Regions from separate parts of the Homo sapiens genome. Here regions 1 and 2 are each linked to region 3. The links come from fine-mapping of genetic effects on gene expression. A gene starts in region 3. Each other region holds a variant in brackets. All regions are shown on one strand. Distances are between the middles of the regions.

The links.
Region 1: its variant is fine-mapped to the expression of TMEM63B in testis (GTEx, PIP above 0.99).
Region 2: its variant is fine-mapped to the expression of TMEM63B in whole blood (TOPMed, PIP above 0.99).

What each region holds. Positions count from the first base shown.
Region 1 is chr6:44,145,726-44,150,943 of GRCh38, forward strand. It overlaps TMEM63B (transmembrane protein 63B), which reads left to right. Exons shown (of 24, transcript NM_018426.3): 11 at 1,122-1,202; 12 at 1,652-1,775; 13 at 2,527-2,660; 14 at 2,788-2,925; 15 at 3,067-3,220; 16 at 4,134-4,240; 17 at 4,499-4,585; 18 at 4,839-4,904. Among named protein-coding and RNA genes, the nearest start is that of CAPN11, 10 kb to the right of the region's middle. RefSeq lists an enhancer at 3,445-3,614. The variant G/A (reference allele first, on the strand shown) is at 2,105.
Region 2 is chr6:44,157,477-44,162,694 of GRCh38, forward strand. It overlaps CAPN11 (calpain 11), which reads left to right and starts at 1,344. Exons shown (of 23, transcript NM_007058.4): 1 at 1,344-1,388. The coding sequence starts at 1,373. LOC107986599 (a long non-coding RNA gene) reads right to left here and starts at 1,127. Exons shown (of 3, transcript XR_002956350.2): 1 at 1,109-1,127. RefSeq lists an enhancer at 2,521-2,690 and a silencer at 4,074-4,163. The variant G/A (reference allele first, on the strand shown) is at 2,109.
Region 3 is chr6:44,125,513-44,130,730 of GRCh38, forward strand. It overlaps TMEM63B (transmembrane protein 63B), which reads left to right and starts at 2,042. Exons shown (of 24, transcript NM_018426.3): 1 at 2,042-2,166. MRPL14 (mitochondrial ribosomal protein L14) reads right to left here and starts at 1,940. Exons shown (of 3, transcript NM_032111.4): 1 at 1,832-1,940. RefSeq lists silencers at 1,673-1,732, 1,763-1,812, 1,833-2,232, 2,273-2,382, 2,563-2,722.

The sequences.
Region 1 (5,218 bases), 20 kb after region 3:
AGGAGTTCAAGACCAGCCTGGGCAATACAACAAGACCCCATCTCAGAATATTTGAAACAAACAAACAAACAAAAAAATGAACTATTCCTTCACTCAGCAAGCATTCTTCAAGCCTTGCCTGGTACCAGGTACTAGTGAGTCAGTGCCAGTTTCTCTCTGGTCAGTCTTAAGTCAAGGTAAGGATGAATCTGGGGTCAGGGTTAGGAGGTCAGTCTTGGGTCTGGGCAACAGGTCTGGGGTCAGTCTTTGGCCAGGGTGGGCTTAAGGGTCAGTCTTTGGCCAGGGTTACAGGTCAGTCTCACCCTGGTCAGGGGTCAGGATCAATCTCTTGTCTGTCTTGGGCCAAAGTTAGAGATCATTTTGTAGACTGGGTTATGGGTTGGTTGAGGTCAGTCTGTGGTCAAGGCTAAGTGTTGGGCTGTGACCAGGTCTTCTGGGAACAGGGTTAAGGAATTATATAGCCTATGACTAGATGCAATTTTTTTCAACCTAAAGGTCACAGCCCTGGACAGGAATCAGACCATAGCCCTGGCTTCCCTACCTGCATGCAGTATGTCCCTACACATCCTGGTTTGTTAGCCCAGCCTGCAGTCACACAGTGCTCAGGCCTTCTGCTCCCACTTCCCCACTCAGATAAGCATGAGGAGGAACTCCAAAGCTTTATTCTTGGGGAACTCTCAGTTTTGTAGACTAAGAAAAAGGCAGCTTGAATTGGAGATGTGGGTTTTTTTGTCTTTTTTTTTGAGATGGAGTCTCGCTCTGTCGCCCAGTCTGGAGTGCAGTGGCGCGATCTTGGCTCACTGCAACCTCCACCTCCCGGGTTCGAGCAATTCTTCTGCCTCAGCCTCCTGAGTAGCTGGGACTACAGGCACGTGCCACCATGCCCAGCTAATTTTTGTATTTTTAGTAGAGACAGGGTTTCACCATGTTGGCCAGGCTGGTTTCGAACTCCTGACCTCAGGTGATCCTCCCGCTTCGGCCCCCCAAAGTGCTGGGATTACAGATGTGAGCCACCACGTCCAGCCAGAGATGTGTTTCTTGAAGGTGATGGGGTCATGGATGAAAGTCAGGGGCAGGTGGGTGGGGTCCCTGCACAAGATGATACATGAACTGTGTTTCAGGGAAGCCTACCCCAACTGCACAGTTCTCGAAGCCCGCCCGTGTTACAACGTGGCTCGCCTAATGTTCCTCGATGCAGAGAGGTAAGGGACTGGGGGCAGAGGAGGGTGACACCAAGGGCCCCCTGCCATTGTGGAGGACATCTTGGCTACCACACAGGCTCCCCTTCTAGATTTTTTCCTAGGGCATTTGATTTTAATTCAACTCGTTGGTGTGCCTGTTAATTCAGCTCTGGAAAGAGCAAGGCCTGGAGGTTAGAGTTTGTTGTGAGGGGAAGGGGGGCCCATGGTCCCCACTGCATCTGAGGACATGCCCTTCTTTGGCTACAGTATGAGAAATTTAGGTCAGCCTGCAGGAAGAACTTCTGGCCCTCTAGGGATGGGTGGGGAGACCTTGGGATGTGGCCACATCTGAAACATGTATCCTAAACAAGAACAAGACAGCTCCTGTCCTTGGGGAGTGAGCTAGATGACCCCCAAGCTGAGCCAGCCCCAGCCCCAGATGTAGGTGACCAGGCATCTGGGTCCCACAGGAAGAAGGCCGAGCGGGGAAAGCTGTACTTCACAAACCTCCAGAGCAAGGAGAACGTGCCTACCATGATCAACCCCAAGCCCTGTGGCCACCTCTGCTGCTGTGTGGTGCGAGGCTGTGAGCAGGTATGACGCGGGCTGGCTGTTGAGTCGGGAGAAGTTGGACAGGTCCTGGGCAGGCAAGGCTGGGGCCCTGCCCTCAGTGAGTCCCCACCTGTCCCTGGAATCCTTGAAGCCTCAGTTCCCACTGTTGGGTTTGTCTAATGTCCCTACAGTGACCAGGTTTTCAAACCTCAAATTAGAAAATGTCAGCCAAAAGGACAATGTTGTGCTGTACCCACTGACTCTGGGGACTTGAGCAAGTTGCTTACTGCTCAGTGCCTCAGTTTCCTCATGGGGTTAACGTACCCACCTTATGAGAGTGTTGTGAGGGTAAAGTGAGTAATACATATAAA[G/A]AAGCTTAGAGGTGCTGGGTGCGGTGGCATATGCCTGTAATCCCAGCACTTTGTGAGGCTGAAGCAGGTGGATCACTTGAGCCAGGAGTTTGAGACCAGCCTGGGAAACATGGCAAAACCTGATCTCTACAAAAAATACAAAAATTAGCCAGGCATGGTACTGCACACATGTATTCCCAGCCACTTGGGAGGCTGAGGTGGGAGGGTCACTTTAGCCTGGGAGCTTGAGGCTCCAGTGAGCTGAGATTCCACCACTACACTCCAGCCTGGGCATCAGAGCGAGACGCTGTTTCCAAAAAAAAAAAAATGCTTAGAGGAGCAGTGCCTGGCTTGTAGGAAGCCCCAAGTCAGCGTGGGCTGGATGCTGCAGGCCCCAGCCTGGCTTTCCAACTAGAGGCCCTGTCCCTAACCCTCCCACAAAGGTGGAGGCCATTGAGTACTACACAAAGCTGGAGCAGAAGCTGAAGGAAGACTACAAGCGGGAGAAGGAGAAGGTGAATGAGAAGCCTCTTGGCATGGCCTTTGTCACCTTCCACAATGAGACTATCACCGCCATGTGAGTCCCCAACTCGGCCCTCGGCCCTGAGCAGCCCTCCAGGGCTCCCTGACCCCTGTGCTCATGGCCTTCTGCCAGCAGTGTGGCCTCCAGGTGGGCCTGTGGTAACCAGTGCCCATCTTTCTAGCATCCTGAAGGACTTCAACGTGTGTAAATGCCAGGGCTGCACCTGCCGTGGGGAGCCACGCCCCTCATCCTGCAGCGAGTCCCTGCACATCTCCAACTGGACCGTGTCCTATGCCCCTGACCCTCAGAACATCTACTGGTGAGCAAACAGGTGTCAGGGCAGGCTTTCCAGGGCCTGGGATGGGCTCAGTAGGTAGGCGGAGGAGAGGGAGTGTCTTGGTGTCACTGGGGGCCAATCCTGCCCTTGGTTCCTGGACTGACCGGTTCCCCACCTTGCCAGGGAGCACCTCTCCATCCGAGGCTTCATCTGGTGGCTGCGCTGCCTGGTCATCAATGTCGTCCTCTTCATCCTCCTCTTCTTCCTCACCACTCCAGCCATCATCATCACCACCATGGACAAGTTCAACGTCACCAAGCCTGTGGAGTACCTCAACGTGAGGCCTCATGCCCCTGTCACTTTCCACGCTGGGTCACAACACACAGATACCAGGCCCTGATCCCTCTTCCACTTGCCCAGCCCAGCCCGTTCTGCTTGTTCCAACCCCGTGCCACCAACCAGCTCCCAAAAACCCCTGTGTGCACTTCCCTTGGGCTCCCTGCCACCTTCCCCCTGAGAGAGGCCACCCTCAGGTGTGCAACACCTGGAGAAACACCCAGGGAAGAGAGAGAGCCTGCATTTAGTCCTGATCTCAGAGAAGTCCCCTTCCCTCACCCCTCAGTCTAACTGAAAAAATGGAAAGGTTCAACTAGATCAGTGGCTTTGGACTTGGATTCTGATCTCTTTATCGGTGTGAAACCCAGTGTGGAAAAGCAGGGCTGCTCCGATGACAGTAGGGTGGCATGCATGTCTGCCTGGCCTCCCCTCACCTCTCCTCCCACGCATAGAGCATACCTCTTTAGAACCTCAGAGTTTGAAGAAGGACAGTTTGCAAATCACTTGGAGTGATAATACCATAATAGATAAGACCCAGACTGCATGGATTCAAATCCCTACCTCATGGCTTGCTAGCTAGGGAAGCTATTGAATCTTTTTTTTGCCTCAGTTTACTCATCTGTCAAATGGGGTAACAGCATTATTGTGAGGATTAAGACATGGCAAGTACATCAGCACTGCTTAGAACATAGTAGATGTTCAGCAAATGCTGACTATCAGTATTATCCACCCTGGGGTTATACATATGGCCCTGGCCCCCACCCTCACCCCAGCCCTCCGGATGTTCTGGGCTTCCAACATGGGAGCCCTGAGAGTTGTGAGGCCAAGGGCCCAGCTGGGGAGGAGGCACATAAGCAAAGCCACCTGGGCCCCCTAGACTGCCCTGCCTGACGCCCCCCTGTGCCCTGCTGCAGAACCCCATCATCACCCAGTTCTTCCCCACCCTGCTGCTGTGGTGCTTCTCGGCCCTCCTTCCCACCATCGTCTACTACTCAGCCTTCTTTGAAGCCCACTGGACACGGTAAGGTGCCTCCACTCACACCACACCTCGCTGTGGCCTGCCCTCAATGACCCATCCTCTCTGGGCAGCACTTTGCCCTTCAGGCTCCTGGCCCTGGGCAGTCCCACAGCTGGTAGGGAAGGGGTAGTGCCCAGCACCCTCACCTTGGGAGGCCCACCCTTCCCAGGGGACACTCCTTGGACATTGTCCTTGTTGGGGGAGCAAGTCTGGGGCCTGGGCTCACTTGACCTGTACCGTTCCCTGCTCCCCTCCCTCCAGCTCTGGGGAGAACAGGACAACCATGCACAAGTGCTACACTTTCCTCATCTTCATGGTGCTGCTCCTACCCTCGCTGGGACTGAGCAGGTGAGTTGAGAAGGATGGGGCAGGAGCCAGGGTAGGGGGACAGCAGGATAGGGAGAGGAGAGCAGTTCAGCCTCCCTACCTCCCCTACAAAGCAAGGGGCCCAAGATGGGAAGCCTGGCCACCCCCAGGCCTCCTGAGCTACCCACCCCATGTCTGGGAGTCTCCCCAGTGGCTCACAGAGGAGGGACTTCCCCTCCCCTGGTGTTCTGTACCACTCCAGCTCCCACCCCATCTCTCCTCTGCTTCCCTCCAGCCTGGACCTCTTCTTCCGCTGGCTCTTTGATAAGAAATTCTTGGCTGAGGCAGCTATTCGGTTTGAGTGAGTGACTGGGGCCCCTAGGGAAAGAGACCAGACAGCAGGGGTGGGTATGCTTGAGAGACATTGCCAGCCCCATGGGAGGGTGCAACAAAGCTTCCAACTCCTGGAGGGGGCAGAAGAGAGAGGATCTGGCGGGGTTACCCCAAAGGCACCCACAAGGTGTCTTGGGTGTGTATACATGGTAGAAGTCCCTGGGGTCTGTGTTGGTGTTCACTCTCTGGTAACCTGTTTGGATGCTAAGATCATCCTCAAGGTATATTTGGGGCTTGGGGCTCCACATTCTGGTAGTTTCTATGGGGGTGTCTTGTGCCCAT
Region 2 (5,218 bases), 32 kb after region 3:
TCGAGACCAGCCTGCCCAACATGGCGAAACCCCGTCTCTACTAAAAATACAAAAATTAGCTGGGCATGGTGGTGGGCACCTGTAATCCCAGCTACTTGAGAGGCTGAGGCAGGAGAATCGCTTGAACCCGGGGGGCAGAGGTTGCAGTGAGCTGAGATTGCACCACTTCACTCCAGCCTGGGCAAAAGAGCGAGACTCCATCTCAAAAAAAAAAAAAAAAAAAAAAATCTGAAGTTATTAGTTTAAATCCTGGCTCGACCGCTTAACAGCTGTGTGACCCTGGGCAAGTTGCATCATACCTCTAGACCTCACTTTCCTCATCTATAAAATGGGAATAGCAATGTCATGGCCTCTGGCTGTTTTAAGGATTAAATAAGTAGGAAGTTCTTAGCCCAGTGTTTGGCACATAATAACAAACCATAATTAATATTCTCGTAGATGAGGAGATTGAGTCCCAGAAAGGAGAAAGGGGGAGGGCTCGCCCAAGGTCAGCTCCTGTTTCAGAGCTTGGAACAAGGTTCTCTGATCCCATTGGGTGCTCTCACACCTGTTCTGTGCCTGATTAGCACCAGGCAGGGCTGAGGGGCACTGGGATGACCTTGACAGTCCCTGTCCTCAGCCATCATACACTCCAGAGAAGACTGCACTCTGGAGCAGAGTTCTTAGCTCAAAGCATTCCCACTTTCCAGTGCAGAGGCAGGACATGTGGTCAGACCAGTGGCCTAACCTTGCCAGACTGGGGCTAGGCAAGGAGAGTGTTGCAGGTGGAATCGTGTCCCCCAAAAAGGCATGTTGAAGTCCTGGCCCCCAGTACTTCAGAATGTGACCTCATTTGGAAACAGGGTGGTTGCAGATGTAATTCGTTCAATTAAGATGAGGTCATACTGAAATGCATGGGACCCTAGCCCCATATGACTGGTGTCCTTATAAGAAGAAGAGACACAGAGGAGGGTGCCATGTGAAGACAGCAACACAGGAAAAATGCCATGTCAGTGAGAAAGGGGCTTTTGGGAATGAGAAGGCTTTCTGGATGTAAAGGTCAGGTTGGTGTGTCAGGGACAACCCCTTCCTGGAAACCTTGGGCTGAAAAAAAGGGACTGGGACCTACCCTGATGGGATGACCGTGATACAGTGAGGACAGCCAGGCTGGTGGAGGCTGTGCAAGGCAGGGGTGCTGGGTCATCTGTCCCTAAAGCGGGTAGCCCTCAGCTGGGTAAGGGGCTGGGTTACTGAGAAGGAGAAAAGGGAAGGCAGCTGTTAAACCGGCTGCTGACCTAGGAATCCCACTGCAATGAGAGAGTTCTGGGGGGAGGGTCTCTTCTCCCCCTCCCACCAGAACCTTCAACTGTCAAGCACCGAGCTAGCCACCAGCATGCTGTACTCCCCAGGTAGGCACTCATGGGGCCTTGCCCCACTCCTGTACCTCCTGCAGGCTAGAGCCTCCCCCCAGGGGAGGAGCTGTGTCCCGCATCAGACTGGGTGCCCCTTGAGGGTACAGAGAGTGACTCTTCCATCAGACTGGATGCCCCTTGAGGGTACAGAGAGTGACTCTTCCATCAGACTGGATGCTCCCTAAGGACAGGACCTGGGCCTCGTTCTCAGACTGTTTGGGGAAGGATAGGCCACTGGTGGTCAGACTGGGTGGTAGGCCGGGCAGGAACTCTTTCTCCTCTCCACTGACAGTTGGAGTTGGGGAGAGGAGAGGGGCCGGCCATCCCACTGTCATGGCTGCTGGGGAAAAGGGTTTGTGTGAAAAAGCCCACGTAGAGAAGAAAACTTTAGGGAACAGAGAGAACCTCTCCTAAGCCTAGAAAAGCAGGTCCCTCAGCCCAGGAAGATGAGATCCTCAGGGTGGCAGGGGCAGGACTACCTGAGGCAAGCCTGGGACCAGACTCCAGGAGATGGGGGAGAGTGGGCTGGGGGGAAGGGGAGGGCTGGGCAGAACTGAGTTGTTCCTGTGGGGCTAGGGTGCACAGAGGGCAGCCAGCCTTGGCCAGCAGAAGGTCAGCCCTGTACCTCACCCTCAGCCTGGGGCACCGTGAGACCATGGGCCCCTAGACCCAGCCTCCCAGCTTCTCAGGCCCTCCCTGTTTACCTGACCCTAGGAA[G/A]TTTAGGCCTAGCTGGTGACCCCAAACCCAGTCCTTGTTCTTCAGAAGTGCCCTGAGCCCAGGAGTTCAAGACCAGCCTGGTCAGCATAGCAAGACCTCATCTCAAAATATAATTTATTTATTTATTATTATTACTTATTAGTATTTATTTTTTTTTAAAGTTCCCTGACACAACATCTTAGTTTTTTCCCAGTGCCGGAAATCAAACTGTCCTTAAATCTATAGTCCCCTAATAACAATGTATTGCATTTAGAAAATCACTGAGAGAGGCCAGGCACAGTGGTTCACGCCTGTAATCCTAGCACTCTGGGAGGCCAAGGCAGGTGGATCATCTGAGGTCAGGAGTTCGAGACCAGCCTGGCCAACATAGTGAAACCGTGTCTCTACTAAAATACAAAAATTAGCCATGCGTGGTGGCGGGCGCCTGTAATCCCAGCTACTCGGGAGGCTGAGGCAGGAGAATCTCTTGAACCCAGCAAGTGGAGGTTGCAGTGAGCCGAGATCGTGCCACCGCACCCCAAGCCTGGGCGACACAGCGAGACTCCATCTCAAAAAAAAAAGAAAATCACTGACAGTAGATTTTAAGTGTTCTCACCACAAACAAATAACAAGTATGTGCAGTAATGCAGATATTAATTAGCTCAACTGAGCCATTCCACAGTGAATACATATTTCAAAACACCATGTCGTATACAACAGATATATACTTTTTTTGTCAATAAAATAAAACTGATTTAGTTAAAAACGATCTGGCCGGGCGCAGTGGCTCACGCCTGTAATCCCAGCACTTTGGGAGGCCGTGGCGGGCAGATCACGAAGTCAGGAGATCGGGACCATCTTGGCTAACGCGGTGAAACCCTGTCTCTACTAAAAATACAAAAAATAAGCCAGGCGTGGTGGCGGGCGCCTGTAGTCCCAGCTACTCGGGAGGCTGAGGCAGGAGAATAGCGTGAACCCAGAAGGTGGAGCTTGCAGTGAGCCAAGATCGCTCCACTGCACTCCAGCCTGGGCGACAGAGTGAGACTCCGCCTCAAAAAAAACCTCAAAAAACAACAACAACAACAACAACAAAATGATCTGTAGGTTCTCAGTCTGATGGAGGAGACAGGATGTGCAGCTGCAGCAGAAAGCTTCCTGTCCATTCATGCCTTTTAACATGCAGCAGCCCCTGCTTTCCACGCAGTTTCAGTTACCCGCTGTCAACTGCAGTCTGAAAACATCAGGATATTTTGAGACAGAGAGACCACATTCACATTACTGTTATTGTATTGTTGTATTTGTTATATTTTATTACTTATTATGGTTAACTGCTTACTGTGCCTAATTTATAAACTAAACTTTATCATAGGTATGTACATAAAGGAAAGACATAGTATTGATATATACAGGGTTTGGTACCACCCGCAGTTTCAGGTGTCCACTGGGGGTGTTGGAACGTACCCCTAGGGTTAAGGGGAGCTACTGTGTTGCTCTGGCCATCTGTCTGTGCTTCCCACAGGCAGCCTTGGTCTGTCTGTCTCAGCCTTCTCACGCTCCTAGCCCATGTGACAGCTTGGATCTTTTGCCCTCTCTAAGGGGATATTTTCTTTTGGGTTTTTTTTTTTTTTGGTGTTTTTGTTTGTTTGTTTGTTTTGAGGTGGAGTCTCACTCTATTGCCCAGGCTGGAGTGCAGTGGCCCAACCTTGGCTCACTGCAACCTCCACCTCCCGGGTTCAAGCGATTCTCCTGCCTCAGCCTCCTGAATAGCTGGGACTACAGGCATGTGCTACCACACCCAACTCATTTTTGTGTTCTTAGTAGAGACGGGGTTTCACCATGTTGGCCAGGCGGGTCTTGAACTCCTGACTTCAGGTGATCCGCCCACCTCAGCCTCTCAAAGTGCTGGGATTACAGGCGTGAGCCACAGTGCCCAACTTAAAGACATTTTCCATGACAACTGTGGTGGTGTGGATAGGTGTGTCAGTCCTTCCTGCAAGTCAGAGCTGAGTAATGACCTCACACCCTGGGGACTGGGTATGCAGCTTCGAAGCAGGGTTTGGGGGCCAGACAGTGAGAAATGACTTGTTGGGCTGGATGGTGACTAGGGGACAGAGGGCTCTGGGGAAATGAGACAAGGGAGTTAAGATGGAACCTGAATTGCCTTGGCCTGCCCTCTGATGTTCTTTCAGTCTTCTCAAACAACAGCATCTTCCCTGGTCCTTCCAGGCCCCCAGGAGAGCTCAACACCCTCAGTCCTCGGAGCAGCCAGGGTAGAGGCTGCCTGGAGTGACTGCACGGTGCAAGGGCATGGAGTGGTTTGCCTTATCGTGTGAATGACCTTAGATGATTCGCTCAACCCAGGTTTGTCAACCCCAGCTCTCTTGACATTTTGAACTGGAAAATTCTTTATTGTGGAGACTTTCCTCTACACTGAGGGGCGCCCAGCAGCATCCCTGGCCTCTACTTACTAGATGCCAGTAGCTCCCCTGAGACCTGCCCCAGTTATGACAACCAACACTGCCTCTAGACGTTGCCACCTGTTCCCTGGGGGCCGTAATCACCCCGGGTTGAGAACTTCTGACTCAATCTCTCTGTGGAGGCCCTGGCTTCCACCCAGCTCAGATGGGAATAGTCATCCTGATCCGCCAGCTTCACAGATAGGGATCAGGGGCTGAAACAGAAGGTGTTCAGCTCTCCCCTCTCAGGACTGCTTTCCACCCTTCCCTCGGAACCCTCTTCATCTGAAAGGGGCTCCACTGTTTAACCCCGCCCCCGCAGCCCCCCTCACAGTCTCTTTGAATAAAGACACACACACACACACACACACACACACACACACACACACACCTGTAATCATAGCCCGAGGGGGTGAGGGAGCTTCCATTACCATTTCTAAGATAATCCCAGAGGGCTTGGGTTAGAAGAGACAGGGTTTGAGGAAAATGGAGGGAGAAAAGAGCGAGGAGAACTCCCAGACTCTGGCTCTACCCACCCTCTTCCCTGCTTCCCAGCCCTGATGCTTCCAGAACCAGGACGTCAAAGTGCACCCCACCCTCAGGGGAATGGGATGTGCTTAGAATAGGGAAAGGGGGATAGTCATTCCCCCACAGAACCTCCCTGATGATCCCATC
Region 3 (5,218 bases):
AGGAGTGGTGGCTCGCGCCTGCAGTCCCAGCTACTCGGGAGGCTGAGGCATAAGAATTGCTAGATCCCAGGAGAAGCTGCAGTGAGCTGAGATCGCACTGCTGCACCCAGATCTCCCCAGCCTGGGCAAGAGAGACTGTCTCAAAAAAAAAAAAAAAAAAAAAAAAAAAGGCCTTCTAGTGATCCTCAGAAATCCAAAAACCAGACAACTATGGCTTCCACTTCCATTTTTCAGATATCCATTATAATACTATTTGACCTCAAAGTGAATTTTATTGTTCCACACAAGCAACAGATTACACCAATTTCACAACTCCCAGAATCCAAACCTACAAAGACCCTTCCCACCAAGCACTTTACCAAAAACGGGCTTCATCTCCATCTTCCTTTCTTTCACAGTTGAAAAACTGCCCTTCCTAATTAAGCCAACCAACTTCTTACCTCAATAAAATCCTTGTTTTTCAGTAGCACGTACAGTATTTCCAGTGATGAACAGTGAACTGTCTTTCGTCTCACACAGTAACCTCCGTGAAGAAGATCCACCTTGTTCTTTACTGTATATTCCTGGCATGCTAACTGCATCCTCAGACAATTTTAAGTGACTGAAAACTCAGGCAAAGAAAGGCAAGAGGGCAAATAGAAGGGCACAGGAGACAACGCTTTTCAAATTTTTCTCACTGCGACCTACAGAAACACACTGTAGAACACCTCCTAGTACACTCACACGTGTGTGTACACCTGAAGTGTCAAGAAACAATACCCTAAGTGCAACACCCTCTGATATTTTCTATTTCAAGTGGCCGTGATCTACTAAACTGATTTCCAACTCACCAATAGGATTCAGTTTGAAAAACACTGCAATAAATCAAACCTTACAGTTGCATTCCACAAGCTACTAATGAACTCTTGAAAATCCAGCATACAGCAGAGACGCTGACCAACTACAAGATCCAAACCCCCCAGGTGGGCAGTGTCCTTCTGTTCAGCAGTGGCAGTTCCCCACCACCACCAGCCCTGAGAGTTAATTATCTCCCAAACTCCCAGAGTTTCCCAAGTAGCCTGAGGTGTCTGTCATATGCCCTTTTAACCTCTTTATAAATTCAGTCCCGTCCGTCTCTTACGGTGGCAAAGTTCATTTATCGTCGGCTGTGGAAAGCAATACTTCCTTTTTGTCCCCTCCAGGAACCAGAAATTAAATGACCAGGTTGGTGCCCGTTGTGCCTTTATGATCTATTTGTGTGGGTGATATATAGAAAGAGTCTCAGTCTCTCCCTTCATCTTTCCAGTCTTAATCACTGGTAGATGCAGTCTCTGGTGAAATAAGAAACCAGGGAACCCCCTGGCCTGGGGGAGGGCGCACTCATCAGCGTTGACAGAGTGAAAGCAAAAACTCAATCCTCACACCACAGAGGCGTCTGGCTAACTCATCTCCAGACCTAAGTTGGGAAAGGGGAGGGGAGCGCGGAAAGCGGAGAAGCCGGAGGAGACGCTCCGGAGTGACCAGCGACGGCTGAACGCAGCCCGCCCTCCCCAAGTCGACGCCGCAACCCGGGGAAAGCAGGTGAGCGCCGGCCACGGACTTGGGGGTCGCAGAAGCAGCCCACGGAGAGCGGAAGGGAGGAGGATCCGGGTAAGGGGCCTCCCCTCCCCGTCGGGACCCCCCTCCCCGTCGGGACCCCCCCCTCCCCGTCGGGACCCCTCCCACTGACGCTCTGCCTCCCACTCTGGCCTCTCCTCACTCACCCCGGGGAGTGGGCCTCCCCTACTGCAGAGAAAGGAAGAGGAGAAGGAGGGAATGAGGACTTAACGCCCACCCCTGCCCCCCACCATACCGCTCTCGCCGCCCGGGAAAATCCCGCCGCGGGCCCCACCAGCCAAGCGCCGCCTTCGCCCCACGCGGCCTCTTCCTAGCGCCTGCGCGCCAGGCCCAGCCCGGCGGACGCGATCTGAGAGTGCGCGCGCACCTTGCGTGCGCCGGCGTGCGGGGCGGGACCTGCGGGGCTCCGCCCCCTCCCCCTCCCTCCCCCCGCTCCCCCTCCCCCATACACTGCCGCGGCCGCCGCAGGAGCCCGGAGCTCGAGCCGCCCAGCGACTCCCCCTCCCCCTCCCCCAGCCCCGCCCCGCCCCAACCCGGGGCTCCGAGCCGGAGCCGAGTCTGCGCCTGGGGGTGAGTACGCGACCCCTACCCAGCCCTCGCTCTTTTCTTCGAAGATCCCACCACCACCCAAAGAAAAAACCTGGACTCAGCTGCGCGTCCCCTCCCTTCAACCTCCTGCGGGACCCAGAGGTGCCCGGGCCCGCGGGACCCAGGGGTGGCGCGCGCTGCCCCCAACCCCGCACCATCCCGAGCCAAATGTGAGTCCTCCAACCCCTGCCGGAGGTCCAGATACGCGCCGCCGGCTCTCCCCAGCCCCGGGGAGATCCCAAAGGGTGGGACCCCCGCCCCCGGCCCCCGAGTGCCACTCTTCTCCCACCTGCCCGGTGCAGGTGCGCGTCCCCTGCGCGACCCTCGGGGGTGCCAGCTGCGCCCCGCCTGTCCGCCGCCGTTTGGGGAACTAGCCGCCCCCGCCCCCGAGTTTTGGACCCCGGGGTCGCCAAGTCCGATGCCTTCTGTGCCTTTTATTTTTTCTGCTGCTCCCGGGGGCGAGTACACCCGAAGCCGGTCCGGGGTAAGGGCTCGGGCTCGGGCAAGGGCAGGGTTCGCAGGTGCTGGCACGAGGCCGGCCGCTGCCCCCGGCTCTGGGGACTGACTGGTCGGCGGGCTGGAGAGGCGGCCGGCCCCGGGAGCGTGTCCTCTCCTTGCGCCCCACACAGTGCAGTTCATTCATGAGCCGCCCGGGCCTGCGTTGGAGGGTGCGGTGGGGAAAAGATTCAGACGCGAAACCGAGAGTGGGGCAAAGGCCCTGTTGTGGGGAGGGGGCGCCGCTTTGTCCCTCCTGGCTGTCTTGACCGCCTAAGGCGGACAGTCCCAAAGCTTGGCACCTTGTTCCCCAGAAAAGGAAAGGACGCTTGGGAAGTGGGGAGGAGAGGTCAGAGGGGCTGGCTGCCCTTGGGGCGCTGTGCTGCCCCCTGCCTGGGTCCCCTGGGCAGAGGTCTGGCCGCTCGGGGCAAGCCTGAGCACTCCACCGCCCTGGGGGGCTGGGGCTTGCCTACCCATTACCAGTCTGCAGCAGCCGGGGAGCAATGAGGCTGTGCCCAACACCTGCTGAAGAGGGGCCCATCCTGCCTCCCAGGCCAGGGTGAGGTGGGGAGTGGGAGTGTCAGCCAGGCTTCAAGTGGGGGTGTGCTGGCAGCGTGATTGTCCTCCAGGGCACCAGAGGGTCCAGGCCTTGGCATGCCCCAGGTGGCACATGCTGGGGCCTGCTGTTGGCTCACTCAGTGCAGTCTTGGCCTGTGGGTGGATGGGGACATGGCAAGGCAGAAGGCAGGCAGTGGGTAACTAAGAACCCCCTTGGACATCATTCAAGTTCTCTCCAAGTATAGCAGAGTCTTAGAGACCTGCGTTCAAATTCTAGCTCTACTATTCTTCAGCTGTGTGACCTTGACAAGTTACTTAACCTGTCTGAACCTCAGTTTTCATTAAAAAGTGTTTATGCCTATAATTCCAGCACTTTGGGAGACTGAGGCGGACAGATCACTTGAGGTCAGGAGTTCGAGACCAGCCTGGCCAACATGGTGAAACCCCATCGCTACTAAAAATACAAAAATTAGCCGGGCATGGTGGCACACACCTGTAATCCCAGCTACTCAGGAGGCTGAGGCAGGAGAATGGCTTAAACCTGGGAGGCGGAGGTTGCAGTGAGCCGAGATTGTGGCACTTCACTCCAGCCTGGGTGACAGAGCAAGACTGTCTCAAAAAAAAAAAAAAAAAGAAAGAAAAGAAAAAGAAAAAAAGTGTGGTTACTACCACCTCCTTACAAGTTTTATCATGGGAATCAAACAAGGTAACAGAAGTAAAGAGCTTGGCATCCTTCCTGGTAATTGATCAATAATGGGTTATCATCTCTGAACTTCTGACCCATAACTCTCCCATGCCTCCACCTCCCAGGCTACCACAGATGGATGGGGTATGTTCAAAGAGTGAGAATATTCCCTGTCACTCAGTGGCAGAGTCCCTAACACAGTGTAAACCCTTAGGTCTAAATAAGAAGCCCAACCTGACTGAGGGGCTCTGTTATATTTCTATCATGTTACATTCTGTGTTTTTATCTTATTTTTGTTTTTACCAATTTTCTTTCTCTAAACCAACCCCTTTTATTCCATACCTTATTAATAACAATAACTAATTCCTAGAGCCCATTATATGCCTTGAACTATATTAAGAGCTTTACATAAGTCATCTTGTTTAATCCCCAGAACAACAACACAACTGGATTATTGTCCCATTTTACAAATGAAGAAACTGAGGCCCAGGGTGACTAAGTAATTTTCCCAGGTTAGAAGCCTGGTCTGTCACATCCTAGAGTCTGTGCTTTTAACCACCAGACTATGGTGCCTGTCCCCTATGCCTGCCTCAGAACCTGAAATCACAAACCCAAGGCCTGAGTGGAGGGAAGCTACAAGCAAGAGGAAAGGCAAGCAGGTAGAAATAGGGTATGGCATTTCTCCAGTGTGGTAACTGACTGCCTCCGGCTCCCTGGTGGAAGTGGCTCTTGTTTGCAGATAACTCTGCAAAGTGCAGTGGTTAAGAGCATACACTCGAGCCAGGCAGCCTGGGTCCTTATCTGGGTCTACCACAGACTGGCTGTGTGACCTTGAGCAGCTCATATACTCTCTCTGTATCTCAGTGTCCTCCTGGGGTTGTGATGGGGAGCAAATGAGTTACATTTGTAAAGTGCTTAGAACAGTGCTTGGCACAAAAGAAGAGTTAAATAAACATTTAATACTATTATTTTACTACTTTTTTTTCTTTTTCTGTTTTTCTTTTTTCTTTCCTTTTTTTTTTTAGACACGGTCTCTGTCTGTCGCCCAGGATGGAGTGCAGTGGCATGATCTTGGTTCACTGCAGCCTGGAACTCCCTGGGCTCAGGTGATCTTCGCACCTCAGCTTCCGGAGTAGCTGGGACTACAGACATGCACCAGCATGCCCAGCTAAATTTTGGTGGTGGGGGGTATCTTTTGTAGAGACGGGGTTTTGCTATGTTGCCCAAGCTGGTCTCGAACTCCTGGGCTGACGTGATTCTCCCACCACAGCCTCCCAAAGTGCTGGGATTACAGGT